7 linked regions of the Homo sapiens genome follow. The protein of the gene in region 4 purifies or fractionates together with the protein of the main gene of each other region. This does not show direct contact. Each region holds a gene or a part of one and is shown on either strand. Other genes may lie near its edges.

Region 1 (4,590 bases), on a different chromosome or scaffold from region 4:
TCACCCAGAAGTCAGGGTGTGAATTAACTTTACCGGTCACCAACCTTTTTGGCAGCAGGGACTGGTTTCATGGAAGACAATTTTTCCACGGACCAGGGGTGGGGATGGTTTCAGGATGATTCAAGTACATTACTTGTTTTTGTTTGTTTTTTGAGACAGTCTTGCTGTGACACGCAGGCTGGAATGCAGTGGCCTGATCACGGCTCACTGCAGCCTGGACCTCCCAGGCTCAAGCAATCCTCCTACTTCAGCCTCCCAAGTAGCTGAGACTACAAGTGCACACCACCACCCACAGCTAGTTAAAAAAAAATGTATAGGCCAGGCACAGTGGTTCACGCCTGTAATCCCAGCACTTTAGGAGGCCGAGGCGGGCGGATCACCTGAGGTCGGGAGTTCAAGACCAGCCTGACCAACATGGAGAAACCCCTTATCTACTAAAAATACAAAATTAGCCAGGTGGGGTGGCACATGCCTGTAATCCCAGCAACAAGAACGAAACTCTGTCTCAAAAAAAAAAAAAAAAAAAAAAATTTGCAGAGATCCCTATGATGCCCAGGATAAATAATAAAACCTTTTTTTTCTTTTTTGAGACAGAGTCTCACTCTGTCACCCAGGCTGCAGTACAATGGCGTGATCTCAGCTCACTGCAATTTCCACCTCCCAGGTTCAAGGGATTCTCCTGTCTCAGCCTCCCGAGTAGCTGGGATTACAGACGCCTGCCACCACACCCAACCAATTTTTTGTATTTTTGGTAGAGACAGGGTTTCACCATATTGGCCAGGCTGGTCTCGAACTCCTGACCTCAGGTGATCCGCCCACCTCTCGGCCTCCCAAAGTGCTGGGATTACAGGTGTGAGCCACTGTGCCCGGCCAAAACGCAGTCTCTAAAAACATAATTAAAAAATAATTAAAACAGGGTGAGTCTGAGACCATCCCAGGAAACCTGGCTTCCACTGCACTGAGGAGGAAGCCACAGTGGGTGGGGGTCCCCAGACCTGGGAATGGGAAGGCACTGCCCAAGCTCTGCTCTTCTTCCAAGAATCCTGATGTTAACGCAGACTCCCCACCCCAGCCCTGCTGCCCCTGCTCCCAAAAAGCAAGCAGCACAGTAGCTGCACACAGGGCTGGGTGTCCATGTCCCACCTTCTATGGGCTGGGCTCTCATGGAGGAGGGGCTGCAGCAGCGACCCCAGGCTGCCCAGGCCAAGGGAGACAGAGACCCAGAGGCAGGCGGAGGATGTGAAGCAACTTTAATTGCCACCCTCAGACGGGGCAGCAGGAGTGTCTTAAGCACAGGGCCGTTCTACCCCCTGGGAGCTGCCTGGGGCCAGCCCCTCAGTTCTGGCTGTGGCAGGTTCCCCATCCTAGCTCCCCGGATCTCCATAGGGAGTGTCCAGGGACCCTCAATCTCCAGGGCCACTTCTGCAGGAGCTCGGGTTCGAGGTTCCACGTGGCCAGAAGAGCTCAGGTCTCTGAGGGCTGGTGTGCCCGGGTACCCATCCGCATCACTGCTCTCCTCCTGTCCGGCTACGCCCAGGGCTGAGTGACGGTGGTGGCAAGTGCTTGTCCTCAGGGCAGCGAGGTCTTCTGTTCTGACAGCAGCAGGGACTCCTTCATGGCCACCAGTAACCCCAGTGGGCGGAGGCGCTCCTGGGCTCGGAGCCAGGACAAAAGGAGGAGGGTGGCGGTGACCAGGCTTGCACTGAGCACCGCTGTGGGGAACAGATGGACAGAGGAGTAAGGAGGGGGAAGGCAAGAGCCCCCACACCCACCAAGCTCCATACACATGGGGATGGGAGTTCTGCAGCTCATCCCTCCCCACCCACCTCCCCTGAATCCCCGGAGCTCTAAGCCCCCAGCATGGGAGGGTAAGTCCCTCTTACCAGCAGCTGCAATAACCCCATAGGCAGTTGGGCTTCCAGACTGGTCTCCGGCAGAGGAGGATGTGGCATTCCCGACAGAGGGGACACTCTCCAGGGTCACAGGGGGCCCCATGGTTGTGGCATTCCTGAGAGAGGTGACACTCTCCAGGGTCACAGGGGGCCCCATGGTTGTGGCATCCCCTTCCGGGAGGATCTCATTGGTTCCTGCAATAAGCCCAGGCGTTCAGTAGTTGAGGAGAGAGCACTGAAGGCGTGAGGGGGCCAGATGCCCAGGGGAGCCCTTGGGGTTTATCCTCAACCAACCAGGCTGGGTGAAGCTGACTGCCCGTAATTATGTCTTTTTTTTTTTTTTTTTTTGGAGAGGGAGTCTGGCTCTGCCACCCAGGCTGGAGTGCAGTGGCGCAATATTGGCTCAGTGAAACCTCTGCCTCCTGAGTTCAAACAATTATCCTGTCTTAGCCTCCCGAGTAGCTGGGATTACAGGTGCACGCCACCACGCCTAGCTAACTTTTGTATTTTTAGTAGAGACAGGATTTCGCCATGTTGGCCAGACTGGTCTCGAACACCTCACCTCAGGTGATCTGCCTGCCTCGGCCTCCCAAAGTGCTAGGATTACAGGCGTTAGCCACCGTGCCCGGCCTTTTTTAAATTTTTTTGAGACAGAGTTTTGCTGTCACCCAGACTGGTGTGCAGTGGCCCAATCTCAGCTCACTGCAACCTCTGCCTCCCAGGTTCAAGCGGTTCTCCTGACTCAGCCTCCTGAGTAGCTCGGATTACAGGTGTGTGCCACCATGCCCAGCAAATTTTTTTGTACTTTTAGTAGAGACGGGGTTTCGCAGTGTTTGCCAGGCAGGTCTCGAAATCCTGACCTCAGATGATCCGCCCACCTCAGCCTCCCAAAGTGCTGGGATTACAGGCGTGAGCCACCGGGCCCGGCCCCTAATGATGTCTTGATTCCCCCACAGGGATGCAGGCACGGGCAAAGGCATGTGTCCACGCCCCCAGCCTGGCCACGCCCCAGCAGGCAGTGGGTGTCCCCATCTACCCACGAGTCCACCCCAGCCCCGCAGGTGCATACCACAGCCGAGCTCGTCGCTGGAGTCGGGACAGTCTGGGTGGCCGTCGCAGCGCCACGTGAGTGGAATGCAGTCATCGCTCAGCGTGCAACGGAGCTCGCCTGCTAGGCAGGCCAGGCGGCTGCAGTTGCGCAGTTTCTTGTCAGTTCCCCCAGAGCAGTCACTGACGCCGGTGCAGGGGCAGGGGAGGCCAGGGGGCGGTGGGCATTGCCCTTTCTGGGTACATGGCTCAATCCCTGGGGCACAGGGTTGGTCAGGTCCCAAATGCCCACCCAAGAAGGCCCAGGTACTCCCTGAAACCCCATCCCCTGCAAGCCCCACCCTCTAAGAACAGCTGAGCCCAAAAAAATGCTCCCTTCCTAAGGCTCCGCCCCCTGCAACTGTTAACTCCACTTTCTAAGGACAGGCCTCCCTGCAAGCTCTTCCCCTGAGACCCCACTAGCTCTACCTTCCTACAAGCCCACTTTATTCTATTTGTTTGTTTGTTTCTTTCTTTATTTTTTCTTTTGAGACGGGGTCTCCCTTTGCTGCCCAGGCTGCAGTGCAGTGGCGCAATCTCGACTCACTGAAACCTCTGCCTCCCAGGGTCAAGTGATTCTCCTGCCTTAGCCTCCTGACTAGCTGGGATTACAGGGGCCTGCCGCCACATCCAGCTAACTTTTGTATTTTTAGTAGAGATGGGGTTTCACTGTGTTGGCCAGGCTGGTCTCGAACGCCTGACCTCAAGTGATCCGCCTGCCTTGGCCTCCCAAAGTGCTGGGATTACATGTGTGAGCCACCGTACCTGGCTCCCTCCCTCTCTCTTTCCTTCCTTTCTTTCCTTTCTTTCATTTTTCTTTTTTTTTTCTTTTTCTTTTTTTTTCCTGAGACAGTCTTACTCTGTTGCCCAGGCTGGAGTGCACTGGCACAATCCTAGCTCACTGCAGCGGCAACCTCCCAGGATCAAGTGATCGATCCTCCCACCCTAGCCTCCCAAAGTGCTGGGATTGCAGGCGTGAGCCACTGCGCCCAGCCCAAGCCCATCTTAGACCCCGCTTCTTATGACCCACAGACCCAAGTCGCACCCATCCCTGCGGCCCTGCCTTTCCCACAAGCTCCACCTCCGCGTGCCTGGCCCCTGACAAACCACCCTCAGGCCCCGCCCCCTGTAAGCCCCGCCAAGGGGCGTGGCCACTCACTGCACTCCTCCTCATCGCTGCCATCGCTGCAGTCCAAGTCCCTGTCGCAGCGCCAGGTGAGGGGCACGCATAAGCCACTGGTGCGGCACTGGAACTTGGTGGGTGGGCACGAGCCTGAGCTGGGGCCTGCGAGATGGATGCAAATGAAGCCTGGGAAGCTGGAGGCTGGACCTTTCTCCAAGAGCACAGTAGTCACTGGCTGTGATCCGCAGGAGACAGGCGAAGTCCCGGGATATAGGAACCACACTGGCGGCTGCTTGTTACTGAGCCCCTAGTACGAGTGGGGTTCAGAGTGTAGCAGTTCCTGGGCTCAAGAGCCCCACTGGGCAGGTGCTACTGCACTCCCCAGGTTACAGAGAAAGGAACCAAGAGGAGGCCATACAGCTGGTGGCAGAGGCTGGGTGCAGTGGCTCACGCCTGTAATCTCAGCACTTTGGCAGGCCGAGGCAGGTG
Region 2 (4,358 bases), on a different chromosome or scaffold from region 4:
ACTACCATTAAACGCAACTAGAAACAAAAGACAGGCAAATGTATTGTTTTGCTTGAAGACATTTCTGATGACATTCTACCAACTATCACAGAATGTATTTATTTCTCTTTCCTTTACTAACCTCCTTTTATTTCTCCCAACCTTTCCTTGGACTTCCTACTGGCACTTCATGTGTACATTGCTTAACTGATACAAGGGTTACTGACCCCAACCACTCTGTAAATATCAGTTTGTTGCCTATAGAGTTGTGTCACTGAGAAAACTTACTATAAAATTCTAAACTTAAACAAATTAGAGTAGAGATGAGATCAAACCAAGGCAGTATGACCCCAAAGCCCCAAACCCTCTCCAGAACAGTGTATCCAAAGGACTTTTAGACAGACTTAAATAGTTCTTCAAAGCATTCAAAAGATGGTCTGCATCTATCACTTGCAGTGCTCCTCCCCAACATAAAATCTCTACTACAATCAAGCAAGTCCCTTCACTGATTGCCATATAGTCCATGCTCTTATCATTTATTTCTATGACTTTGTTTAGAACTGGTCCCCTCACCTAGAATGTTTTCTTGCACATATTTAAGTTCTATTACTTCACTAGTCTGTAAACTCCACAGAAACAGGACCATATCTGCTCTGTTCACTATCATACCACCAGTGAACATGGTGGCTACTCAATAAATCACTGTTGAGTAAGTAAATGAACTGAAGTCCCACCTCCTTCATGAAAAATCATGTCAAATACTCCTAGCCACTTTCTTTTTAAATTCCGAATACCCTGGAATCAGTTTCATAGTTTAGTAGTACCTAATTTCTCTCTGCTTGGTATTAAACTTCTTTCTCTTGCTAGACATTGGAACATATGCCTTATGCTTCTTTGTATAGCTCACAGGAAACACTGAATATGCAATAAGCACACAATAAAAATGTACTAATCAAAGTGCTGACATGCTTTGTAAAAATTCAATTTACACACAACTTTGTAAGAATGCAGCTATTTGCAGAGTAGGTTAGACATACATAAGGCCTTTTCCCTTGCTTACACTGTATCACAACTTATTCAGTACAAGTATGGTTCAGCATTTGACAATTAGGGAATGTGGAAAATCTCGATGGCCTAGAGTCTGTGGCTCACTAATTACAGAAGCAGATTGTTATGAGTTTTCTTGATAGGGAAATAGGATGAGCACATCACAGTGATTTGATTTGCCAGCTGTAATAATGAGCTTTAAGATGCCATGTTAGCATATGTAGGTGTACTATAGGCTACTGGGGGACCCTCTCAATCTGAGTTTTCCATTTTCTTTCTCTTTTTTTTTCTTTTTTTTTTTTTTTTTGAGACAGGGTCTCACTCTGTCACCCAGGCTGGACTGCAGTGGCATGATCTCAGCTCATTGCAGCCTCAACCTCCCAGGCTCAAGCAATTCCCCCACTTTAGCCTCCCCAGTAGCTGGGACTATAGGCGCATGCCACCACACCTGGCTATTTTTTGTAATTTTTGTAGAGATGGGGTTTCACCTTGTTGCCCAGGCTGGTCTGGAACTCCTGAATTCAAGCAATCTACCCACCTCAGCCTCCCAAAGTGCTGAGATTACAGGCGTGAGCCACCGCACCGGCCAATTTTCTATGGTGTAAGTTAGAAATTAAGTATTGTGCCGGGCGTGGTGGCAGGGCCGGGAGCGGTAGCTCAAACCTGTAATCCCAGCACTTTGGGAGGCTGAAGCGGACAGATCACCTGAGGCCAGGAGTTTGAGACCAGGCTGGCCAACATGGCGAAACCCCATCTCTACTAAAAATAAATAAATTAGCCGGGTGTGGTGGCACACGCCTGTAACCCCATCTACTCGGGGGGCTGAGGCATGAGAATCGCTTGAACCCTGGAGGCAGAGGTTGCAGTGAGCCGAGATCGTGCCATTGCAACTCCAGCCTGGGCTACGGAGCAAGACCCTGTCTCCAAAAAAAATTTTTTTAAAGAATTTAAATATTGCTTGCAAGTATTGATTGATTAGTATATTGATCCTGTAGTCTACTAAATTTATAGTACAGCAAAACTGTAATTTATAATTTTATTATATAGGATGTTAAAATTACTTTTACAGTAAATAATATATTAAAATATTAAAGGTAACTACATTTTATTGTATGTTTACTATCTGCCAGACACCGTACATGTATTAGATCATTAACAATCCTGTGAGACAGGTACTGTTATTGTCCCCATTTTAGAAATTTGAAGGAACTGAGGCACAGAGGAGTATGAAATCTGCGCAGGGTCATACAAGTAGTAAGCAGAGGGGCTGGGATCCCACCTAGACAGTCTAGCACCTGGACTGAGCCAGACAAGACAGGCTTTTTTTTTTTTTCCGGACAAGACAGGGTCTCACTCTGTCACTCTCTCATCCAGGGTGGAGTGCAGTGGTGTGATCTCAGCTCACTGCAGCCTCAACCTTCCAGGCTCAAGCGATCCTTCCACCTCAGCCTCCTGAGTAGCTGGGACTACAGGCACGTGCCAACACACTCAGCTAATTTTTGTATTTTTTGTAGAGACAGGGTTTCCCTATGTTGCCCAGGCTGGTCTCGAACGCCTGGGCTCAAGCAATCCGCCTGCCACGGCCTCCCAAAGTGCTGGGATTACAGGCGTGAGCAACTGTGCCCCACCTAGCCTCCACTCTTAATCCTATATTATACTGTCTCTCCAAAACAATATATCGCAATACAATGGTGAAGTTAAGATACCTTGAAGCATCAAGAGAATAATATCTAATACTCCAGAAAATGTTCAAAGATATTACTGTCAAGATGAAAAAACAAACATAGACCATTTCACTCCAGCCTAGGTGACAGAGCCAGACTCCATCTCAAAAATAAATAAACAAAAATAAACATTAGGTGTTTTAGTATATCTAAATATACATTTAGTATATCTTTTCTTTCTAGGAGAATCTGAGAATACAATTAAGACACCATTTTTAACACTAGGTGTTTTAAGGCCTGGCACAGTGGCTCATGCCTGTAATCCCAGCACTTTGGGAGGCTGAGGAGGGTGGATCACTTGAGGTCAGTCAGGAGTTCGATACCAGCCTGACCAACATGGCAAAACCCCTTCTCTACCAAAAATACAAAAACTAACCAAGTGTGGTGGCGCGCACCTGTAATCCCCGCTACTTGGGAGACTGAAGCAAGAGAATCACTAGAACCCAGGAGGCGGAGGTTGCAGTGAGCCGAGATAGCACCACTGCACAGCACGATGCTGTCTCTACAAAAAGTTTAAAAATTAGCTGGGAGTGGTGGCACACACCTATAGTCCCAGCTACTCAGGAGGCTGAGGTAGGAGGATCGCTTGAGCCTGGGAGATCGAGACTGCAGTGAGTTATGATGGCGCCACTGCACTCCAGCCTGGGTGACAGAGCAAGACCCCATCTCTTAAAAATAATATTATTTAAAAAATAATAATTAATTAATAAATAAGTAGCTAGGCATGGTGGCATGCGCCTGTGGTTCCAGCTACTTGAGAGGCCAGAGGATCATTTGAGCCCAGGAGATTAAGGCTGCAGTGAGCTATGATTGTGCCATGGCACCCTAGCCTGGGCCACAGAGCGAGGCCCTGCCTCTAGAAATAAATACATAGATAAATAATAACAATAACATCTTTTAAAATAAAAATAAAATAAAATAAGGTTAATGGCCAGTCTAAAACAATATCCCTACAATGTGAAATAACCCATTTATTTCAACTGGTAAATTGTTAAAAATGCACTCCTGATTATAGGTCTGAAAAACTGGACTTCTACACTAGAGATTAATAGTAAAAATAAGTAAAACTCTTTTTTCATCCTTGAGACATAGCTGTATAATTTTAAATGTGAACAGAAAATATGGTACAAAGTACACATAACTGACTCAAAATGGGGTATTTTACCCTCATTTCCTTCAAGGAAAGAGGTATCTGTGAAAACTGATGTAGTCTACCAATATCTCATACATTTGGGCACAAAAAGATTAGGAAATCACTTCAATTTGCAAACAGTGCTGGAAAAAGTAAGAACATTTTATAAAATCAGAAACACAGGACCCTTTTACTTTAATGAAACACATTCTAAAGGAATTTTGATATTTTTCCTGCCAAACTATCTCAGCAAGTTAAGTAAGCAAGTAATATCACATTAAATCAACCTGAAGACTGAGATTTAAGAGGGAAAAACATGATTGCTGGGATGGTAGAGTGAACTAAAATACTCTGCCTAACCATTGCCTATCACTCATCTGTCCCCCAGCCTCCCCCTTGCCCCGGCCCCATGTTGAGCTATATCCTAAGAAATATCGTTGTCTAAAAACAAAACGCTAAAACCTGAACTGCCCTTT
Region 3 (4,358 bases), on a different chromosome or scaffold from region 4:
TAATCCTTTGCCTGTGCTGCAATCTGTTGCTGAATTCATCTTTCTGATATAAAGGTTGTTTTCTGTCACATGTAGCATTCTTTTCCCCAGTCTGTTTTTTGTCTTTTAACTTTGTACATATATTTGACATGGAGAAAAGTGTGTGTGCATGTGTGTTTTAGGTAGATAGGTCTTTCCGTTTCTTTTACATTTTCTAACTCTGTTATAATTTTTATATCTTCCTTATTCCTCCAAATTATTATATATGTTAGTCTCTGCTTCCTCTTAGTATTTTTTTCTTAATTTTTTCACATATTACCCTGAATTCACCCAGTATTTTACTTCGTTATATGAGAGCTAGAGCCCTAATTATAGTTTCTTCTAAATATTTAGAGACTTGTCCAGAATTACTTATCAGATGATTATTTGATTATTCCACTGTTTTGAAATATTTTTATTATAAACTAAATTCTGCTTTATACTTGGGTATGTTTCAAAGCTTCTATTGCCCTTTCTTAACCTATTTTAGATGGCAGATGTTTGTAGGATTTCTGCCAACAATGTCAAAGGTAACATTCAGATTAGAGACATTTCAAATTCAAGAGTCTTATTGTTGAGATTGAAGATTTCCTAAAAATAACTAAAGAGTATAGCCTTGGCAAGTTAAATAGCCTTTATGGGTTAATTTTTTTTTTTTTTTTTAATGGTAAGTGCTAGTGTGGCTTGATAGGTTGGGGCCTAAGGTGAAATTGTATAAAAGCCTAGACCTGATGGTAGTGTTTCTCTTCTAGCCCTTGGGAGCCACGTTGCTGCGTGATGAAGTGATCTAAGCAGAAACCTTGCTTCATGCTCTCTTCCCTATCCCATCCACCTCATATTATTATTATTTCCCTGTGTACATAAGGTCCTAATGTTTATCATCAGGCTTTATCTTTCGACTGGAGGTGCTAGGCTAGTGTGGAAATAATTTATGTGTCCTTAAATATTAGCTACCCTCAAGTAAAACAGAGGTCCTTTTTTACCTGGAGGTGTATATGTATATGTGTGTGTGTGTGTGTGTGTGTATTCTTTCTTTGATACAGGGTCTTGCTCTGTTGCTTAGGCTGGAGTGCAATGGCACGATCTTGGCTGACTGCAACCACCGCATCCCAGGCTGAAATGATTCTCCTGCTTCAGCTTCCTAAGTAGCTCCCAAGTAGCTGGGACTACAGGCATGCCTGGCTAATTTTTGTGCTTTTTGTAGAGACAGGGTTCTGCCATGTTTCCCAGGCTGGTCTTGAACTCCTGGACTTAAGTGATCTACCTGTCTTGGCTCCCAAAGTGCTGGGATTACAGGTGTGAGCCATCATGCCTGGCCCCCTGGAGATTTTTTAAGTTTTTTTTAAAGTTAATTCTGCTTTCTACAAACGTATTTCCTTTATTTTGTTTATTGTTATTTTTTTGAGACAGTCCTCTCTGTTGCCCAGGCTGGAATGCAGTGGCTCGATCACGGCTTCACATCCCAGGCTCGAGCAATTCTCCCACCTCAGCCTCCCAAGTAGCTGGGACTACCGGTGCATGCCATCACGCCCAGCTAATTTTTGTCACCCAGGCTGGTCTCAAACTCCTGGGCTCAAGTGATCCCCCCACCTTGGCCTCCTGAAGTTCTGGGATTACGGGCGTGAGCCACTGCGCCCAACCCAAATATGCTATCTCTAATGTACAGCAACTTCAATACCTGATGCACAGTTTTTGAATGGAATTTGCATACTCATTGTGTCAGGATAACTGCGATAAACTACCCGTCAAAAACTGGTTATGTTTTTCATGTAAATTTTAGCATTTGGGATATTATTTTTAGTTAGTACGATCTTTGCCTTAAATTCATGAATACTTGGTGTTCCAAGCCTTAGTGGAATGTAAATTGAGAACGTCTTTTTTGGGTTTAGTCCTGCCAATGCCCTTGGACTGTGGTCAAACGTTCATCAGTCAGGATCATTGCTACAGGGCTACTTTCAGGGAAATGAATAAGGCAGTCCAGCAATTCAGCCCCTTTAACCTGAGCCTGGGAAGATACGGAATTAGACTATAGTGTGATAGCTTTAAAGAACAAAGTGAGGGGCAGTGTGGGGAGGGAGAGCATCAAGAAGAATAGTTAATAGATACTGGGCTTAATACCTCGGTGATGGGATGACCTGGGCAGCAAACCACCATGGCACATGTTTACCTACGTAACAAACCTGCACATCCTGCACATGTACCCCTGAACTTAAAAGTTGAAGAAAAGAAAAAGAGCAAAGTGGAAATTGCAAGATTTTAGTATTCAGTGATGGTTCTATTGATTCATTATCCCTGCCTTTCTCTCTGACATTAGTTAGTTCAGCACACCTTCATATCTATCCTAGATGTTGAAGCTATGTCTACTCGCTGGTATCTCTAGCTGCAGCCTTGTGCCCCCTCGATTTTATATTTCTTATTGTAGCCTTTATCCTTCTGGATTACTAATCTTGGATCACAGTAGCTTAAAATCTTACCATGAATCCTCATTGCCTCCGGGTTACAGTTCAAACTCCTTAATGAGACAAGCACAGCTCTGTAGGAGCTGAACCAGCAACGTTGTATTACTGGCATTTCCCCAAATGTACAATGTGCTTTCTTTGGAATTGTCTTTACTTTCTTTCTTTTTTCTTTCTCTTCCTTCTTTCCTTCCAAAAATCTTGCTTAATTAACTCCTACTCGTTCAAGTCATTTTAGACTTTAGTTCCTTATTGGGTTAGGTGCCCCTTATGGCACCCAGCCATCTCCTATTTGTTTTCTATGGTGGTGGAATCTTCTACATTCTATAGTGTAGTAAGCCCATTGTCCAGTGGGCAGAGTTTGTGTTTTCCTATAGAGCTAACTCACTATTGGTTATTTTACCTTCTGTGAGAGAATTTGTGTTAGCAAGGTTAAGCTTGCACAAGAAGGTGTGCTTTATATTGCTTATGAAGCCCATTTTGAAGCAATACCATTTTTGAAATAAGTGATACAGGTAGTAAATTGGTCATGATATACTGATTATAAACAAACAGTAATATAGTCATGAGTGATAACAATAACAAAGGTCATTAGTCACTGGAAATTGCTGGCATGGACTATGTGAAGTTAGGGACTTGCTGATATAGCAGTGAACCTAATTTTACACGAAATACTAACAAGCTTTGTGACTTGGAGCAGGGAAGATAAATTCCTAGAGTCAGATAAATTGGTTCAGCAGAACCACACAGCGGAATTATAAAAACAACACATTCTGGGGTTGTTAAGCAAGGTGAACTTTTGCCCTTGTGGAATTCATATTCTTCCTTAGAAACCTAGAGTGAAATTCTCTCTTTTTTTTTTTTTGAGACAGAGTCTCATTCTGTTGCCCAGGCTGGATGGCAGTGGTGCGATCTCGGCTTACTGCAACCTCCGCCTTCTGGGTTTGAGTGATTCTTGTGCCTCAGCCTCCCAAGCAGCTGAGACTACAAGCACGTGCCACCACACCCCGCTAATTTTTGTACTTTCAGTAGAGGTGGGGTTTCATGATGTTGGCCAGTCTGGTCTTGAACTCCTGGCCTCAAGTGATTCCCCCATCTCAGCCCAGCAAAGTGCTGGGATTACAGGCATGAGCCACTGTACCCAGCCGAGTGAAATTCTTGTGCCTCACTTGTGAGGAGCTGTATTAAGGTTGCTGCAGAGGCTGCTTCCCGCCATCTGAAGGGGAAGGAGCCCACCCTCCTTGTTTAACCTTTACCTGTCTCCAGTGGGTTTCCCTGCATCCCAGGCTTCCCTCTTGCAAAAGCCAAATTTGAAAACAGAACTGTAAAAGAAGTTATTTAAAAATGAGACAGACAGGGCGTGGTGGCTCACGCCTGTAATCCCAGCACTTTGGGAGGCCGAGGCAGGCAGATCACCTGAGGTCAGGAGTTCAAGACCAGCCTGACCAACGTGGCAAAACCCCATCTCTACTAAAAATACAAAAATTAGCTGGGTGTGGTGGCAGGCGCCTGTAATCCCAGCTACTTGGGAGGCAGAGACAGGAGAATCGCTTGAACCCAGGAGGTGGGGCTTGCAGTGAGCCAAGATTGTGCCACTGCACTCCAGTGTGGGTGACAGAGCAAGACTCTGCCTCAGAAAAAAAAGAAAAATGTTCCCACCTTGGCTTTTTTTCTTTTCTTTTTGAGATAGGGTCTCGCTCTGTTACCCAGGCTGGAGTGCAGTAGTGCGATCATGGCTCACCACAGCCTTGACCTCCCAGGCTCAAGCAGTCCTCCTACCTCAGCCTCCTGGGTAGCTGGGACTACAGGCACATGCCACCACGCCTGGCTGATTTTTGTGTTTTTTGTAGAGACGGGGTTCCGCCGTGTTGGCTAGGCTGGTCT
Region 4 (3,493 bases):
AGCTTTTAGAGACATTTTATGTGTATTCATCTTTGTAAAGAGACTTCCACTTATGATGCTTTTTTTTTTTTTGAGACGGAGTCTTGCTCTGTCGCCCAGGCTGCAGTGCAGTGGCACAATCACGGCTCACTGCAAGCTCTGCCTCCAGGGTTCATGCCATTCTCCTGTCTCAGCCTCCTGAGTAGCTGGGACTACAGGCACCCGCCACCACGCCCGGCTAATTTTTTGTATTTTTAGTAGACACGGGGTTTCACCGTGTCAGCCAGGATGGTCTCGATCTCCTGACCTCGTTATCCGCCTGCCTCGGCCTCCCAAAGTGCTGGGATTACAGGCATGAGTCACCGTGCCTGGCCTGATGCTTTTATAACTATTACAACTACTTAGACCACATCGTTCTTAACATTTTGGGGGGAAGGGACCTATTTGAGAATCTTGAGTGAAACCCATGAATCCAGGCACAAAGCCCCTGATGTTACACATCTTTCTGAAGCAGAAACCCTCCCTCCATCCCGCCCACCCATGACCGTGCATGTTAGTATGAGCTGCTCATGTACTGGGTAGCAACGTGGCCCCAGGATGGAAGCAGAAGCATCTCTGGGAAGGAGGATGCTGTTTACAAAGCTCTGTCTGCCAGCATGCCCTCCCTCCGAGAAAGACTCAGCCAATCTTTCAGCTCTCATTTTGGATTCTGATTCTCAAACTGGTTTACAACATCCTAGCACTCATCCCAAAGTCGGGATTTTTTTATTTGTATATGTTTTTTATTTTTAACTTTCATTTTAAGTTCATGGGTATAAGTGCAGGTTTGTTACATAGGTAAACTTACATCATGGGGGTTCATTGTACAGATTATGTAATCACCCAGGTATTAAGCCTAGTAACCATTACTCATTTTTCCTATCCCAAAGTCTTATGAGTTGAATATAAAACAGAAAAACACCCTTTCTTCACATGCATACGTTTAATAACATGAAAGCCAAGACAGAGGTAAAAACACTAAATCAACTTGGTATCCGTTTTACTCCCTAATATTAGGGGGACAGTGAACATATAACTCAAGCAATAAAATGCCTTTGGAAACCAAGAAGGGAAGGGCCCAAGTTTGATAAGGGAAAGCCAACAATGGCTAAAACATCCATGCAACACTTCGTGAAGTCCCTTCTGCCAGCGGCTCCCGTGTGTCCATATCTTGGAGTGTGTTAGGCTACTGCTTCAAGAACAGACCGTGGACCTGGCTTCCTCACTTCCCCAAAAGAATTCCTACAGAAGGCTACAGGAAAGGCTTCTTGGTAACCTTCTTTGTTTCAAACAATGGAAAACATGAGAAATGGATAGCACCCTCTCATCCCCAAAACACCATCATCATAGCAAGGATAATGACTCAATGGAGTTTCGAATCTGTATAGTGCTTTATATGTTTTCAAATAATTTTCACGTATATGATCTTCATTAGCCCATGCAACAGCCTTGTGGTTTACAATGGAGAAAGCAGACACCAGAAGGAACTTGCTCAAGATCATGCACCCAGATAGTGGGACAAGTGGGCGAGCACCCAGACTGCACCGTCAGCCCAGCATTTCCAGCCGGCCATTAAATAGCTCTCTATCTTGTCACCCTCTCTGACTTCTTCTCCCTCTCTATGTCCAGGCTGCCTGTCAGTTCACAATGCTATCTCACTACAGATACAGATTTCAAAAGCAGAAAAACACAAACCTTCTTTGACAAGTACATATAGATATAAAAATAAATGTGGCACTCTTCTTTATTGCTTCTTTATGGATGTCTTTCCCAGATGAAAAGACCCTGCTGGGGAATAGTTCATCGACTTGTTATTTCTTTGTACACAGATTACTCCTTAGTAATAGCAGGACCTTCACACCAGGAAATTATTTGCTAAATATTTCCCACTGTCTCACAGCTTGATCTGTCAATTTCTCCCAGACGTAAAACATCTGGGCTGGTACAGCAAAACACAGAAAATTCAAAGAGATGTCCCCAAGATGCAGAAGAGGACAGCTGTCCTCAGGAGTCTGTCACGGGCCAGCTGGGGGCATTCATATTTCCCAAGACCCTTTTCCAGCTGCATCTCACCATAGCTTTTATATGACTGAAAAAATGTCCAGGAGGTTGACCAGATAGCTGCATACATCGCTGAAAAGGTGGCCATGGAGAAGCAGCAGTGGCCTCATGCTATGTGGTCATGTGATGGTTTTCGAGGCCTGCCCACAGAAAATGGGGTGGGATCCCCTTCCAGATGTTTTCAGTGAGGTGAAGGACTTCACAGGATGCCATCTTCAGCGTAGGCTCATTCTTCTCTCCTCCAGTGTAACAGACAGGCACACCCCTGAGCCTCAGCTTCAGGAAGAAGAACCTGCAGAAATCCTGCTCATACCAGTTCTGTCTTGTGAGGAGTCACTAGCCCTAAATGCTTATTTGGGGAGGTAACTGGGAGAAAAGCTCGTTCCATGCCAGCTTTAGAAAAATCTGGGAAGATACTCTGTAGCCGTGCAAACTTCTAAAAAGAAATGAAAGAAATGTGAAGTGAATAATTGGAAAAATTCAGCAGTTGTCACCTCCTTTTAAACTCTATTCACTAAGAGCTGGCTAGACAACCCATTCTGGAAGCTCTCATACTCACTGCCTCACTCGCTCCACAAGGGATTTGTACCAACCATTTCACTGGCGTCTCTAAACTTGGACCAGGAGATTCACTGATTGTGGCCATTTCGACCCCCTACTGTTAGGTCTCTGTATGGAAAGTCAATGCCCACAGAAGCAGGCATTTTCCAACAAGAAGCTAAAGTCATTCATGTTTAAAACATACTGCCTGGTAACTCTAATTATCTTCTTATACGCAAATAACCCTAACATCCTAACTGTAAGCTCCTTGAGGGCAGGAACAATGTCTTACACCTTTTTATGCCCTGTACAGTGCCTAGCATAATGCCTTGAACATAGTAGGTGCTCACTGGAGTCTCTGATTGACTGGTATCTAAAATAGAAACCAGAGAGATGAGTGCACAGCCAGAGAGGCAAGTAAGTGAATAGAGGGACACAGTGAGTGGCAAGAACCAGTCCTGGGGTAGCTCCTGGGTGAAGTCTGTCCTGGCCCCTAGGTAGCCAGCCCTGCCTGGTGGATGGAGACAAAGGGGGCAGATCACTTCCTAGAGGGGTCAGACACACATGTGGCCCTACTCTCCCACAACCATCATCAACACAGGTGAGCAGCCATGCAGAAAGAATCTCTGAGGGCTTTGAGCCAGAACCTGCAACCAACAGCTCATGGGCATGTCTAGGGTGCCTGAGCACCGGCCAGCCATCCTGCACCCCGGAAGCCTCCCACTGTGCCTCACTGCTCTGGCTTCTTGGGATTAATTCTTAAGGCATGGGCAGAAATACCAAAAATAGAAGGGGAGAACCCCCACGAGAAATAGTTTGAAGGCAGCCAAAGGAGGCTGATCTATCCCCTGGCATCCCTGGGGCAGTGGGGCCC
Region 5 (4,358 bases), on a different chromosome or scaffold from region 4:
AGCCAGGATGGTCTCAATCACCTGACCTCGTGATCTGCCTGCCTCAGCCTCCCAAAGTGCTGGGATTACAGGCGTGAGCCACCGTGCCCGACCCTAATTTTTGTATTTTTAGTAGAGATGGACTTTCACCATGTTGGCCAGGCTGACCTTGAACTCCTGGCCTCAGGTGATCTGCTCACCTCAGCCTCCCAAAGTGCTGGATTACAGGCATGAGCCACCATGCACAGCTAAGATTGTCTTTTTCTTGACTTAAAGAATTATGGACAGTAAACCTTTGCCTGTTTATATGTGCTGCAAATGTTTTTTCCTGGTCTGCCTTTTATGTTTTATACTTGTTAATGAAATCTTCCACCAACTGGCAATTTTCAACTGGTCAAATTTGTAAATTTTATCCTCCCTTTTTGGCCTCTGGTTTCAAGTATATTAAAAAGTCTTTCCCTATCTTTGTGATTATAAACATATTTTTCTGGCGGGGTGCAGTGGCTCACACCTGTAATCCCAGCACTTTGGGAGGCCAAGGTGGGTGGATAGCTTGAGGTCAGGAGTTCAAGACCAGCCTGGCCAACATGGCGAAACCCCATCTCTACTAAAATACAAAAATTAGCTGGGTGTGGTAGGCCTGTAATCCCAGCAACTTGGGAGGCTGAGGCAGGAGAATCGCTTGAACCCGGGAGGTGGAGGTTGCAGTGAGCTGGGATTGCGCCCCTCCACTCCAGCCTGGCAACAGAGCAAGACTGTCTCAAAAAACAAACAAACAAAAATATTTCTCTATTTAGTAGTTTCATAATTTTTTTGTCATTTACATATTTAATCCACTGGAAATGTATTTTTATATAATATGGTATAGAGATATAGCTTTTTTTTCCCCACAAAGTAAAGAAGTAATTAACCAAAAGCTGGTTATTTAGGTCAACTATTTCTCCCCAGTGATCTAAAATACCATCTTTGCTATATACTGAATTCCATAAACTCCTGGGTCTGTTTCTGGACAACCTATTTTTATTTCTTCTTTTACATTACATACCATAATTCTTCATTTATTTTCATTTTTTATTATTTCTTCTTTTACAGACAACCTATTATTATTGTTACTATTTTTTTTTTTGTGCTGTCCAGGAAACAATCCCAGGTCACAAGAATGGGAACTTATTATTTTTTTAAAAGTTGATTTATGTCTTTATTCTTGTGCAAGGACCAAACTGTTAGGTTTTTTTTTTTTTTTTTTGAGGTGGAGTCTCGCTCTGTCACCCAGGCTGAAGTGTAGTGGCGTGGTCTCGGCTCACTGCAAGCTCTGCCTCCCGGGTTCACGCCATTCTCCTGCCTCAGCCTCCCGAGTAGCTGGGACTACAGGTGCCCGCCACCACGCCCGGCTAATTTTTTGTATTTTTAGTAGAGACGGGGTTTCACCTTGTTAGCCAGGATGGTCTCGATCTAAACTGTTAGTTTTGTCACTTAATTCTGCTACTTTATAATTGCAAAGTAGGATCCTATTAATTAATTCTGTAAGTTTATGTATGTTTTCTTATTCTCAAGCGCTAACTCTTCCAAGTAAGTTCCAAATAATTTTAGAACATCCCAAACCATAAACAAAAATATCCAATGAAGGCAACTAAATTGAAATCTAAATAAAATAAAATCAACATCATTATAATAAAGAGTCTTCTCATCCAAGAAAATCTCATCCATCTATTCGGTCCCTGTTTTATATCCTTTAAGTAAAACTGTATTTTTCTCATTTATATCTTGCATATTTCTTGTTAGGTCAACTTATTAAATTTTAAATGCTACTTTATATTTCTTTTTTGGCCTCGTTTTGTTTTATTATTTATTTGGTTGTCTGTTTTACTTCCAGCAAAGACTTCAAAAATGTGATTTTCAAGGAAGAAAGTAGTGAAGAAATTACATACAGTACCTTTTCTAAAGCAATATGTAGTTCTTTTTCATATTCTGGTGGCAATCTCAGGAGTAGAACCTGGCAGGCATCTTTAATCAGTGGAACAACACTGAGAAATATTAATATAGCAATAAAAAGAGAACAGAGTGGGTCAGCGATGAACCATCCAAACTGCTCTATAAGAACTGTGGATACGATCACACCAATGCTGCCAAGTGTATCTGCCAAAACATGTAGAAATACACCTACAAATAAAATATATAAGGACATTAAAAATTAAGGCACATCTAATTTAGTTTTTTAATACATTCTACTAATATTACTGGATACCTACTGTGCACCACATACTCTGCTACTGGCTAGTACTTCAAAATGCCTAAAACATGGTCACTGCCCTCAAGGAATTCAGAATACAGTGGTAAAAATATAAGGACATAGGCACTCATGACACAGCGTGCCAAATTTTATGGTGTACTTTGTCTGGAAAGGCTTCCCAAAAATCATACTTGAGGCAAGTTTTGACATTACCCACATTACTTATATTAAGCAATCAGAATAAACAATTCAGCAAAATAAATGATTAGTACTTCCTCCATTTTTTTTATAGTGCAATAAAAATTTCTAAAAAAGGAGTAAGAATTTCCTTTTTGTAATGAAGGTTCATAATAGCACACTGTGTTTACCTTGCAACTAATATCTATTCAGCTGTCACTATGAAAAGGACTATATAATTATAATCATTTAAAAACTAACATTTAAGAACAAATATATTTTCATTTTCTTTTTGTTTTGGATAGAGTCTCACTCTGTTGCCCAGGCTGGAGTAAAGTGGCGTAATCTTGGCTCACTGCAACCTCCATCTCCCAGGTTCAAGTGATTCTCGTGTCTCAGCCTCCTGAGTAGCTGAGACTACAGGCGCCTGCCACCACACCTGGCTAAGTTATGTATTTTTAGTAGAGACAGGGTTTCACCATGTTGGAGAGACTGGTCTCGAACTCCTGACCTCAGGTGATCCACCCACCTTGGCCTCCCAAAGTGCTAGGATTACAGATGTGAGCCACTGTTCCCAGCCTCATTTTCTTTTTAAAAAATTTTCTGTGACGGCCAGGCATGGTGGCTCACACCTGTAAGCGATTCTTCTGCCTCGGCCTCCTGAGTAGCTGGGATTACAAGCACCTGCCACCATGTCCGGCTAATTTTTGTATTTTTAGTAGGCACAGGGTTTCACCATATTGGCCAGGCTGGTCTTGAACTCCTGTCCTCAGGTGGTACTCCCGCCTCAGCCTCCCAAATTGCTGGGATTAACAGGCGTGAACCACCATGCTCCCAGCCAGAATGTCCCTCTTTTTAAAGGCTGAATAATATTTAATTTTATGTGTATTCAGGTAAGAATATTTTCTATAGTGATAGCTTCAGACCTTTCTTTTAGTCACAGATTGCTTTTTAAAAATCATATCATACCAGAAGCCCAAAACTTAATACAAATAAACACAGAGGGTTGATTTAGAACACAGTTGAAAAGTAGGATAATATTTTGCAAGGACTCACCCCTCATGTTAGCATTCATGCCTCCACCCGCAGATCCGTGGCTGTGACCATGCCCATGGTCACTGTGTCCATGCATATGGTGTGAATGGCTGTGATCAGATGAGTGACAGCTTCCTTGAGAAGCTCCATGGGCATGGCTATGGGCATGGCTAAAGGCACAGATACCAATAAGGTTTACTATCAGCCCTCCAACTGAGACTGGCTAGCAAAAGGGAGAAAAAAAACCTTTAAATTAGTAATTTAAAAATAGACTTGTTATTTAAAAGTTATTATATAGCTATATATGTTTTTCTGTTTACAGTTTTGAAAGTATTCACAGTAAAACCTTACTAAGTTTCAGTAAGTCCAAAATTTTAAAAATGTGAATTTTAGAACATTTTAGAAGAAACATTTTAACTTTCAAATATCAAGCAGAATTGGTAAGTAGAGGAATTTGGACTTATTTCAATTAAGAATGGTATGTACTTGGTTTATGGTTTATGTATAAATAAATGATGCAAAGTTTTGTTTTGTTTATTGAAGAGTTTGAAAGTACTGCTTACTAGGGCAAGTATACACTGTACCTGAAATCTTTATATTGCTAGGTAAATTTGAACAGTTTATATGCCAACAATTATAATTTATTAATGAGCAGATTCCAAATATGGTCTTATTATGTCTTAAACACAGTAAAATTTTCCAAAGTAAAACAAGTATAATAAAAAGGAAACATACAATAGTAATCTCGCATTTATTTAAATTAAAAACAAATTTTTTTCTTTGGTAGAGACAGGGTCTATGTTGCCCAGGCTGTCCTCAAACTCCTGGGCTCAAGCGATCTTCTCACCTTGGCCTCCAAAAGTGTTGGGATTATGGGATTACAGGCATGAGCCACTATGCCTGGCCTCTCATTTTTTTCTTAACAAAGTGAATGAAA
Region 6 (4,358 bases), on a different chromosome or scaffold from region 4:
ACCATGGCAGGCCAGGATGCCCAGTGGAACCAGGAGCCCCATTGTCTAGGGCCAGCTCTGCCGGCTTGCTCCATCACCCTGGGGCAGTCACTACCTCCCTTTCCCTCCCCATGTAGAGAATGGAGAGCTGTGTTGTCCCACCGTGTTCAGGGGTAGTCCCATCTTCTTGATCTTTCTGAGCTTTTAGGAAATCCTGGATTCCTGTGACATTATTCAAGCAAAGGAAATTAGTCTCAAAGCCAGTGATGGGAACCCAAGGAATAGTGGTCTATTCCTGTTTTCCTCACTTCCCCCTAGACCCAGATGCCTGCTGTTTGGGTTGAAAAATGAAGTAGACACTGGCAGAGAGGTGGGGAGGGCCCAGACCAGAAGCTGGAGAGGTGGTTCAGCACTGGCCCTTGGCAGTTAATTCCGGTTAGGACGGAGAGCCAGCTCCTCATGCCTCCTCCCATCCCACCTGCCCGGCCCTTCACTGAGAACCCACTGCCCGATGGGAGCCTGGGTCTCCCTGCTCCTCCTCCTGCCTGGGCACTTGCTCCAGCCACCCTGTATTGACTGCTCTCCCCAGATGGCTGTGTCCTCAGAGCTCAGACAGCGGGGCTGACCTCACGCAGCTGGCGGGGTAGAGCCAAGGTTGGAATGCAGGTTCCTGCTCTGTGCACTCCTGTCCTGGGCCCCTGCCTGACAGCCAAGCCCACCTTTGTCTGTCCCTACACAGTGTCTTCCCACGGGAGTTGAAAGAGGTGTTTGCCTCGTGGAGGCAGGAGTGCAGCAGTCGCGGCCGCCCGGACATCAGTGAGCGGCTCATCAGCGCCTCCCTCTTCCTGCGCTTCCTCTGCCCAGCCATCATGTCGCCCTCACTCTTCAACCTGCTGCAGGAGTACCCTGATGACCGCACTGCCCGCACCCTCACCCTCATCGCCAAGGTCACCCAGAACCTGGCCAACTTTGCCAAGTGAGTGCCTCCTCCCTCACCAGGCAGAGTTGGGCAGGGCTGGTGTCCACAGGGCAGGCCCTGGGGGTGTTTCTGCCCCCAAGCTGAGCAGAGACCATAAACAGGCCCTGGTTTTGTCCCTGTCATCCTCAGTCCTTCTCCTTCCCGCTTTTTAAAAAATAAAATCTCCACACCCTGTCCTTCTACTCAAGGTATATGTCATTTTGGTATGTTTCTTAATTTTTAAAGGTGACGACATGAGACATTTTTTTCCTTCTGCTTTTTTGAATTAATGTATTATTATAAGGATTCTCACATATCCCTTAACATTCATTAAGCCCTGTTTTGAAATAAATGACTAATATTCCTCCAAGGGGGACTGGCCCATATTTCCTTAATCCATTCCCTGTGCTTGGGCACTTGGGTTGGGCACCACCATCCTGGTGTCAGGCTATCAGGATGTCTTTGCTGATAAAGCACTATTGGTGTTTTTGGCTGCATCCTTAGAGCAAGTGGGCAGAAGTAGAAGGGCTGGGTCGTCTCACTGTTGTTCATTCTCAAAACATAGATTGAGCCCCATCCTGGGGCCATCTGTGTGCTGGGCTCTGACGGCACCAAGATGAATCAGTCCTGGTGGCGCTCAGCACTTCAGCCAGGGAGACGTGTGGAATGAGCAGGAGAGCAGTGATAGACACACACGAGCCTCTTAGGAGGGCTCTCAGCTTGTTGGGAGAGGAGACAGGAAAGCCTCCAGGGTGACATGATCCCCCAACTGCATGTCAGGGTGAGGCGTTCATTGTCTCAAGAGGAGCAGAGGCTGGGCATCCCAGGGAGGGCCATGCACTGTGCCAGGTCAGGAGAAGCGGGCGATGAGACCTAAGAGGACAGCAGGGACCTGAAGGCCAGACAGGGCTGTGGGAGCCACCAGAGGGTTTTAAACAAGGGAGAGGATGGCCTTCCTCTGTTCTGGATCCTGAAAAGCTCACCCTGACAGCAGTGGGCAGATGGGTTGGAGGGAGCAGGATGGTAGCCAGGAGACGTGAAAGGAGAGCATAGCTGTGGTTCCAGCAACAATAGCAGAAAATTCGCAGGGAGGGGAGCGGGTACAGGAGGCAGTGGCTGCAAGGGACAAGGTTAGGGGTGATTAGAAGGCAAAATCAGTGGGCCGTGCCATTTGGGAATGAGGAAGAGGGAGGAGTTGACAGCTGCCAGAGATTCTGTCTCAGGTGTATCTGTATGGGTAGTGGGGTCTCCACTTAGGGTAGGGAGCTCAGGAGGAGGGCATGGGTTTGGGTGTTGATGATGACTTCAGGTGTGGCAGGCTGAGTAGGAGGGACTCCCAGGGGTGGTGCCTGCAGATATATTAATACATGCCTGAAAGCTCATTGGGAGACCTGGGTTGAGCAGGGATTGAGCATCATCTGCATACCAGGGCAGTGAAACTTGGAGGAAAAGCCGAAGGACACTGTTAACAGGCAGTGTATGGGGGACACAGAACATTCCAGGTCCTGAGATAAAAGGTTCAGAAAAGGATCGCTGGACTTACCATGAGCAAGGAGGGCCCTGGTGACCTGGGTCAGAGCATATTCAGCTGACTTGGGGAGTGAATGGAGTGGGAGCCTGCCATAGTGGGGAAAGCGGGTGGTGGTGTCCCAGTGGAGGGAGTTCCTGGGCAGGGCCTGCCTGGGCCCAGTAGTGCTCACCCAACTGCCCTCTCTCCAGATTTGGCAGCAAGGAGGAATACATGTCCTTCATGAACCAGTTCCTAGAGCATGAGTGGACCAACATGCAGCGCTTCCTGCTGGAGATCTCCAACCCCGAGACCCTCTCCAATACAGCCGGCTTCGAGGGCTACATCGACCTGGGCCGCGAGCTCTCCAGCCTGCACTCACTGCTCTGGGAGGCCGTCAGCCAGCTGGAGCAGGTGCCTGTTGCCGTGGGGCGGAGGTGGGGCCAAAAGCTGCCATCAGGCTTTTAGTGTTCCCCCTTCCAGAGTAACCATGGAGGGCAGAGAGTTTGCCCAAGTGGCATGATCAGGCCAGGTCCTGTCAGAACACACTGGGGATCTGTGGGCCCCATTTTCTCTGTGGGCAAATGCTATGTTCACTCAGCAGTATCTGCCAAGGCTGCCCCACTCTGGGTACTAGAGCTGGGGTGTTCCGCATGCACTCAGCCTTTAGTGGACAAGCGCCACTGTGCTGCCTGCCAGAGCATGTGAGAAATAGAATTGGATCGTGAATCCGCCTGTATGAAGAAGATGACTCAAGACCCTGTACCTCCACTTGTCCAGCAGGAAGTCGAAAACCTTTCTAGGATTGCCCTTGACCATCAGTTGACAAGGTTACTCCCTAGACACCTCTGACACTGCTGCAGTCACCTGAAGTGAGCCCTCCCTAGCCCGAGACTTCACTGACCCCCAGCCTCAGCCCACACAGTGAGCAACTAGTTCTTGGACTTAAGGGCTGGGTCTACCAGGAACTACTTCCCGAATATCTGTTGCTTTCTAGGGCTCCAAGGGACCACCTTACTTTTGTAAGGTGCTGAAACTGGCCTGGAAGGCCCTTCATGCCTCCTGGTCCCATTCCCTAGAGGTGACCGCTCAGAGCACTGGTATGCAGCCTTCTGGACACGATCTGTGCATGTGTAAGCGCACACACACATGCAGGCGCACACACATAGAGCTCTTTTCCTTCTTCAGTTTGTTTTAAAGCAAGAACATACTGTGTATGCTGCTGTGTGCATTTCTTACCACTGTGTTGTGGGCCTCTTTGCTTGTCAGTGCAATCTCCACCACCCCCAGGGACTTTTTAATGACTGCATTGTATGAATGCTATTTATTTCACCAGTCCCCTATTGATGGACACTTAGGTTAGTCCTGACTTTTCACTAGAAATAGGTCCTGTTGCAATCAAAGGCCATCATTTTTGCTCATTTGTATCCACTTGCCTTTGGCTGTGAGAGACACAGGAGGGAGAAATGGAAATGAGGGCTGAGACCCTACATTCCACCTGTTCCAGTCCCTGCACTGCAGCCAACACTAGTCACTGTCACTGCCACCACTTACCTTTCCCCTGTGCTGTCCACGTATCTGCACAACCAGGCAGGAAGAATGGAAGGTGATCAGTATTGTCACATCGGTGATAGGGTGCAACAGGGATTTGAAACTCAACTGTTTGCCTCTCAATTGCGTGCTCTATTGCCTGCATGAGTTTTCACACTTTGTTTTCTCACAGAGACCTCTGTGGAAGCTTGTGCATAAACAGGTGAAGGCAGTGTCCCCAAAGCCTAGAATCCTCTGCCCCTTAAGTTCTCTAAAGCGTGCCAGCAAGGTTCAGATGGGTTCAGGCACTGCCTTCTGCCTGACCAGCACCTGAGGGTGCCTGCAGTGTGCTTGGACCATCTCCACTGGGGCTCAGGTGCCAAG
Region 7 (4,358 bases), on a different chromosome or scaffold from region 4:
ATCTATAAAAGACTGGGTTTTCATTACTATGGGAGTAAGTCCAATAAACTAGTATTATTTTCCATTTGAAACTCACTGCTGTTTCTTCAGCTGGTTAGTAAAGAAAGATCTTGGTTGGCATTCCGGACTATGTTTTATTCAAACCGTGTATTCTACTAGGTTTCCTTTAGCCAAATGTATATAGTTGAACTCACACATTTTCAAAGCACATATGGAGGCTTCCACCTGTACCTCACTAGCCTTGTCAAAAATGAAATTGACTGAATCAGTGTGTACCCACCAAGTATGTTTTCATGGCGCATTAGCACAGTTTGGTAGATTTCTGTTTCTCGAAACCAGCTGGCTTCTTCAGTGGTAAAGAATACTTTCACCGCCACTTTTTCGCCACGCCATTTGCCCATCCATACTTCTCCATATCGGCCTTTACCAACTTGCCGGACCATCTGAATCTGTTTGGCAATAGTTCGCTGAACCTTTATAGAAAAAAGTAAAAGGTTTGAGCTCTTGATGAAAGAAACCCATTAAGACTGGCAAAGGGGTAGTCCATCTCATCAAAAAGCATGGTGTACCCAACCAACTCCAGTTAAAAACTTATAATGTACTTTTTTTTTTTTGAGATGGAGTCTCGCTCTGTCACCCAGGATGGAGTGCAGTGGCGCGATCTCGGCTCACTGCAACCTTCACCTTTTAGATTCAAGTGATTCTCCTGCCTCAGCCTCCCAAGTAGCTGGGATTACAGACACCCGCCACCATGCCCAGCTAATTTTTTTGTATTTTTAGTAGAGATGGGGTTTAGCCACGTTGACCAGGCTGGTCTTGAACTCCTGACCTCAGGTGATCCACCCCACCCCCGGCCTCCCATAATGCTGGGATTACAGGCGTGAGCCACCATGCCCGGCCATAATGTACTTTAAAGTATGAAACAATGTACAATGTATTCTGAAATCATAAACAGGTTATTCAAGTGGCTGGCTGTTTGCAAAAATGGTCATAATAATTACCCTCCCAGTGCACACAGTCGTGGGTAGTCTTGGTCCACAGACTCAGGGCTTAGGCCACATGACTTGCTTTGGATAAAAGAACAACAGCGAACGTGATGCAAGCAAAGACCTGACAAATGTTTGTGGACTGGGGCTTGCCCCCTTCCTGCTGCTTTGGGAACCCTGTGACCAAAAAATAATGGCAGCATGAACTGTCGGCCAAGGGTGTGAACTACACCACCTAGCTCTAGCTAAGCAAGTCCAACAAATGAACTGCCCCACAGACTCACAGAATGAGAAATAATGTTTGTTGCTTCACATCACTAAGTTTTGGGGTGGTTTATTATGCAGCAAAGTCCAAATAACAGTTAAAGATCTTAAAAATCCCATCTATAAGACCCTGCCTGATCTGGCCTGGTCCCATTATTTGCTTTGACCACCCACCCACAAACCTCGTTTGACTTATCTCAACTTTTAGAATTCACTCAAGCTTATTCCTGTCGCTGGGTTTTTTTGAATATCCAGTTCCCTTTACTTAGAGTGCTATTTTCTCACTTAAACACCTTCATAGCACACAAAACCTCTCAGTTGCTGCGCTTAACACAATCATAACTTTATTCTTATTTACATATATATTTGCTTGAATTCCATCCCCTGCTCACAGAATATAAGTATTTATTTGGGACAATATCAGAAGTACTTTAATATTTGTTAAATAAAAGATGTACATGGATTGTTATCTTTCATTTTCAGAAGCATTAGTGATCATTCTAAATTAAAAAGAACATTATGCTCCAAGTTGGAAATGCTTCTAAAATGGACTAGATTTAGTGCAAAGCTAAAGTGACTTTATGTATCATTTATTATAGAATCCTTTTGTAAATTTTGTTCTGTTTTTTTGAGACAGAGTCTCGCTCCGTTGCTCAGGCTGGAGTGCGGCGGCCAATCTCAGCTCACTGCAACTTCTGCCTCCCCAGTTAAAACAATTTCCTGCCTCAGCCTCCCGAGCAGCTGGGATTACAGGCATCTGCCACCACGTCCAGCTAATTTTTGTATTTTTAGTAGAGACAGGGTTTCACCATGTTGGCCAGACTGGTCTCGAACACCTGACCTCAAGTGATCTGCCTGCCTCAGCCTGTAAGTTTTTAAGTCAAGATTATTGAGGTATAATTTATATAAAATGTACCCTTTTTGAGAAAAGTTCAACAAGCCTTGGACAAATCTATATCATGTAATCACCAATACCACAATTAAGATACAGAATATTTTAATAACGTAAAAAAATTCTCACTTTTTGGCCAGGCGTGGTGGCTCACGCCTGTAATCCCAACACTTTGGGAGGCCGAGGCGGGTGGATCACCTGAGGTCAGGAGTTCAAGACCAGCCTGGCCAACATGGTGAAACCCTGTCTCTACTTAAAAAAAAATACAAAAATTAGCTGGGCATGGTGGTGCATGCCTTAATCCCAGCTACTTGGGAGGCTGAGGCAGGAGAATCACTTTTGTGTAGCCTTTTGTGTCTGGCTTCTTTCATGTAGCATAAAGTACTTTTGAAATTCACCCACTGTTGCTGCTACATGTGTTAGAAGTTGTTCCTTTTTACTGATGAGTAATATTCCACTGTATGAATGTACCAGCATTTGTTTATTCATTTAGCAATTCATGAGCTTTGGGGTTGTTTCCAGTTTATGTCTATTATAAATAAAACTGCTATAAACATTCACATTCAGGCCTCTGGTGTGGACAAGTTTTCATATCTCTTGGGTAAATAATTAGCAGAAGGATTGCTTCATTGTACGGAAAGTATGCCCTTAACTTTCCAGGCAATTGTCAAACTATTTTTCAAAATAGCCATACCATTTTGCATTCCAACCAGCAATGTATGAGATTTCTAGTTGATCTACATCTTTGGCACCACTTAATATTATCAGTCTTAGCTATACTAGTGGATGTGCAGTAGTATCTTACTGTGTTTAATTTGTATATCCCTGCTGATGCTGAGCATCTTTTCATGTGCTTGTTTGCCATTCTTATATCTTCTTTGGGGAAGTGTCTGTTCAAATCTTTTGTCCATTTTTTAAAAAAATTGGGTTATCTTATTATTGAGTTGCAAAAGGTCTTTATATATTTTGCACAAAAACCCTGTATCAGATCTGTTTTGCCAATCTGTGACTTGTCTTCTCATTTTCTTGTCTTCTAAATAGCAGAAGTTTTAAATTTTGATAAAGCCTGATTTATCATTAAAAAAATGATTTGTGTTTTTTATGTACTGAAGAAGTCTGCCCAAGGTCAGAATAATTTTTTCAGACATTTTCTTTTAGAGGTTTTATACTTCAACTTTTACATTTAGGTCTATGCTACATTTCAAGTTAATTTGGTATAGAGTGAGGAGGTAAGGACTGAGATTAACTTCTTGGTAAATGGATTCCTGATATTTCCTGCACCATCTGTTAAATGGACTGCCTTTTTCCAATTGAATTACTTGGGCATCTTTTTGTTTTTTTTTTTTTAATCAATTAACCATATTAAGTGCATGTTCCTTTCTAAACTCCATAATCTGTTCCATTCATCAATACATCTATCCTTATGCCAGTACCAAATTGAGATCATTATTGAGTTTTACGGTAAGTCCAGAAATCAGGTAGTGATTCCTCTTTGTTCTTCTACTTCAAAATTGTTTTGGCTCTTCTAGTCCTTTGCATTTCCATATAAATGTTAGAATATACATCAATTGCTATAAAAGTTTGCTCTGATTTTCATTTGGATTCGAATGAAATTACACACCAATTTGAGGAAAACTGAAATCTTAATACTGAGTCCTCAGATTTATAAACATCTCCACTTATTTAGGGCTTTATTAATTTCTTTCAGCAATGTTTTATAATTTTCAGTGTGCAGGTCTTGCATAAATTGTTAGGCTTATTCTAAATATTTCATGGTTTTTGATGCTATTTTAAATACTGTTTTTATAATTACCTAATTGTTTGTTGCTAGAGCCTATAAATTCAATGGTATTTGTACAATGACTCTGTATTCTGCAACCTGATAAAGTCATTTACTGGCTGCAGTAGTTTTATTGTACCATTCTTGGGATTTTCTACGTAAACAATCATGTTGTCTGCCTATGAAGGCAGTTTTACTTTTACCTTTCCAATTCAATTAGAGTTATTTAATAAGATGAATTTCAAAATTAGAGATCAGGGTGGGTGCGGTGGTTCACACCTGTAATCCCAGCACTTTAGGAGCCAAGGTGGAAGGATCAGTTGAGGCCAGGAGTTTGAGACCAGCCTGGCCAACATGGAGAAACCTCATCCCTCAAAAAAAAAAAAAAAAAAAAATTAGCCTGGTGTGGTGGTGCATCTGGTAATTCCAGCTACTT

What was found.
Region 1: the proteins of CD83 (region 4) and CD320 purify together in Homo sapiens (affinity purification with mass spectrometry; 2 studies listed by BioGRID and IntAct, with this or other methods). This does not show direct contact.
Region 2: the proteins of CD83 (region 4) and ATP7A purify together in Homo sapiens (affinity purification with mass spectrometry; 2 studies listed by BioGRID and IntAct, with this or other methods). This does not show direct contact.
Region 3: the proteins of CD83 (region 4) and UGCG purify together in Homo sapiens (affinity purification with mass spectrometry; 2 studies listed by BioGRID and IntAct, with this or other methods). This does not show direct contact.
Region 5: the proteins of CD83 (region 4) and SLC30A5 purify together in Homo sapiens (affinity purification with mass spectrometry; 2 studies listed by BioGRID and IntAct, with this or other methods). This does not show direct contact.
Region 6: the proteins of CD83 (region 4) and DAB2IP purify together in Homo sapiens (affinity purification with mass spectrometry; 2 studies listed by BioGRID and IntAct, with this or other methods). This does not show direct contact.
Region 7: the proteins of CD83 (region 4) and BMPR1A purify together in Homo sapiens (affinity purification with mass spectrometry; 2 studies listed by BioGRID and IntAct, with this or other methods). This does not show direct contact.

Annotation. Positions count from the first base shown.
Region 1 is NC_000019.10:8,300,894-8,305,483, forward strand, and holds the end of CD320 (CD320 antigen isoform 1 precursor), read right to left. Parts: intron 4,264-4,590; coding exon 4,138-4,263; intron 3,196-4,137; coding exon 2,962-3,195; intron 2,088-2,961; coding exon 1,884-2,087; intron 1,713-1,883; coding exon 1,570-1,712; 3' UTR 1,234-1,569; downstream 1-1,233. UniProt on the Homo sapiens protein: Receptor for transcobalamin saturated with cobalamin (TCbl). Plays an important role in cobalamin uptake. Plasma membrane protein that is expressed on follicular dendritic cells (FDC) and mediates interaction with germinal center B cells.
Region 2 is NC_000023.11:77,913,330-77,917,687, reverse strand, and holds part of ATP7A (copper-transporting ATPase 1), read right to left. Parts: intron 1-4,358. UniProt on the Homo sapiens protein: ATP-driven copper (Cu(+)) ion pump that plays an important role in intracellular copper ion homeostasis.
Region 3 is NC_000009.12:111,899,457-111,903,814, forward strand, and holds part of UGCG (ceramide glucosyltransferase), read left to right. Parts: intron 1-4,358. UniProt on the Homo sapiens protein: Participates in the initial step of the glucosylceramide-based glycosphingolipid/GSL synthetic pathway at the cytosolic surface of the Golgi.
Region 4 is NC_000006.12:14,134,130-14,137,622, reverse strand, and holds the end of CD83 (CD83 antigen isoform a precursor), read right to left. Parts: intron 2,516-3,493; coding exon 2,387-2,515; 3' UTR 717-2,386; downstream 1-716. UniProt on the Homo sapiens protein: Transmembrane glycoprotein predominantly found on the surface of many immune cells including dendritic cells or lymphocytes that plays various roles in immune response regulation.
Region 5 is NC_000005.10:69,120,980-69,125,337, reverse strand, and holds part of SLC30A5 (proton-coupled zinc antiporter SLC30A5), read right to left. Parts: intron 3,645-4,358; coding exon 3,443-3,644; intron 2,140-3,442; coding exon 1,913-2,139; intron 1-1,912. UniProt on the Homo sapiens protein: Together with SLC30A6 forms a functional proton-coupled zinc ion antiporter mediating zinc entry into the lumen of organelles along the secretory pathway.
Region 6 is NC_000009.12:121,765,776-121,770,133, forward strand, and holds part of DAB2IP (disabled homolog 2-interacting protein), read left to right. Parts: intron 1-718; coding exon 719-955; intron 956-2,656; coding exon 2,657-2,858; intron 2,859-4,358. UniProt on the Homo sapiens protein: Functions as a scaffold protein implicated in the regulation of a large spectrum of both general and specialized signaling pathways.
Region 7 is NC_000010.11:86,913,249-86,917,606, reverse strand, and holds part of BMPR1A (bone morphogenetic protein receptor type-1A isoform 3 precursor), read right to left. Parts: intron 474-4,358; coding exon 281-473; intron 1-280. UniProt on the Homo sapiens protein: On ligand binding, forms a receptor complex consisting of two type II and two type I transmembrane serine/threonine kinases.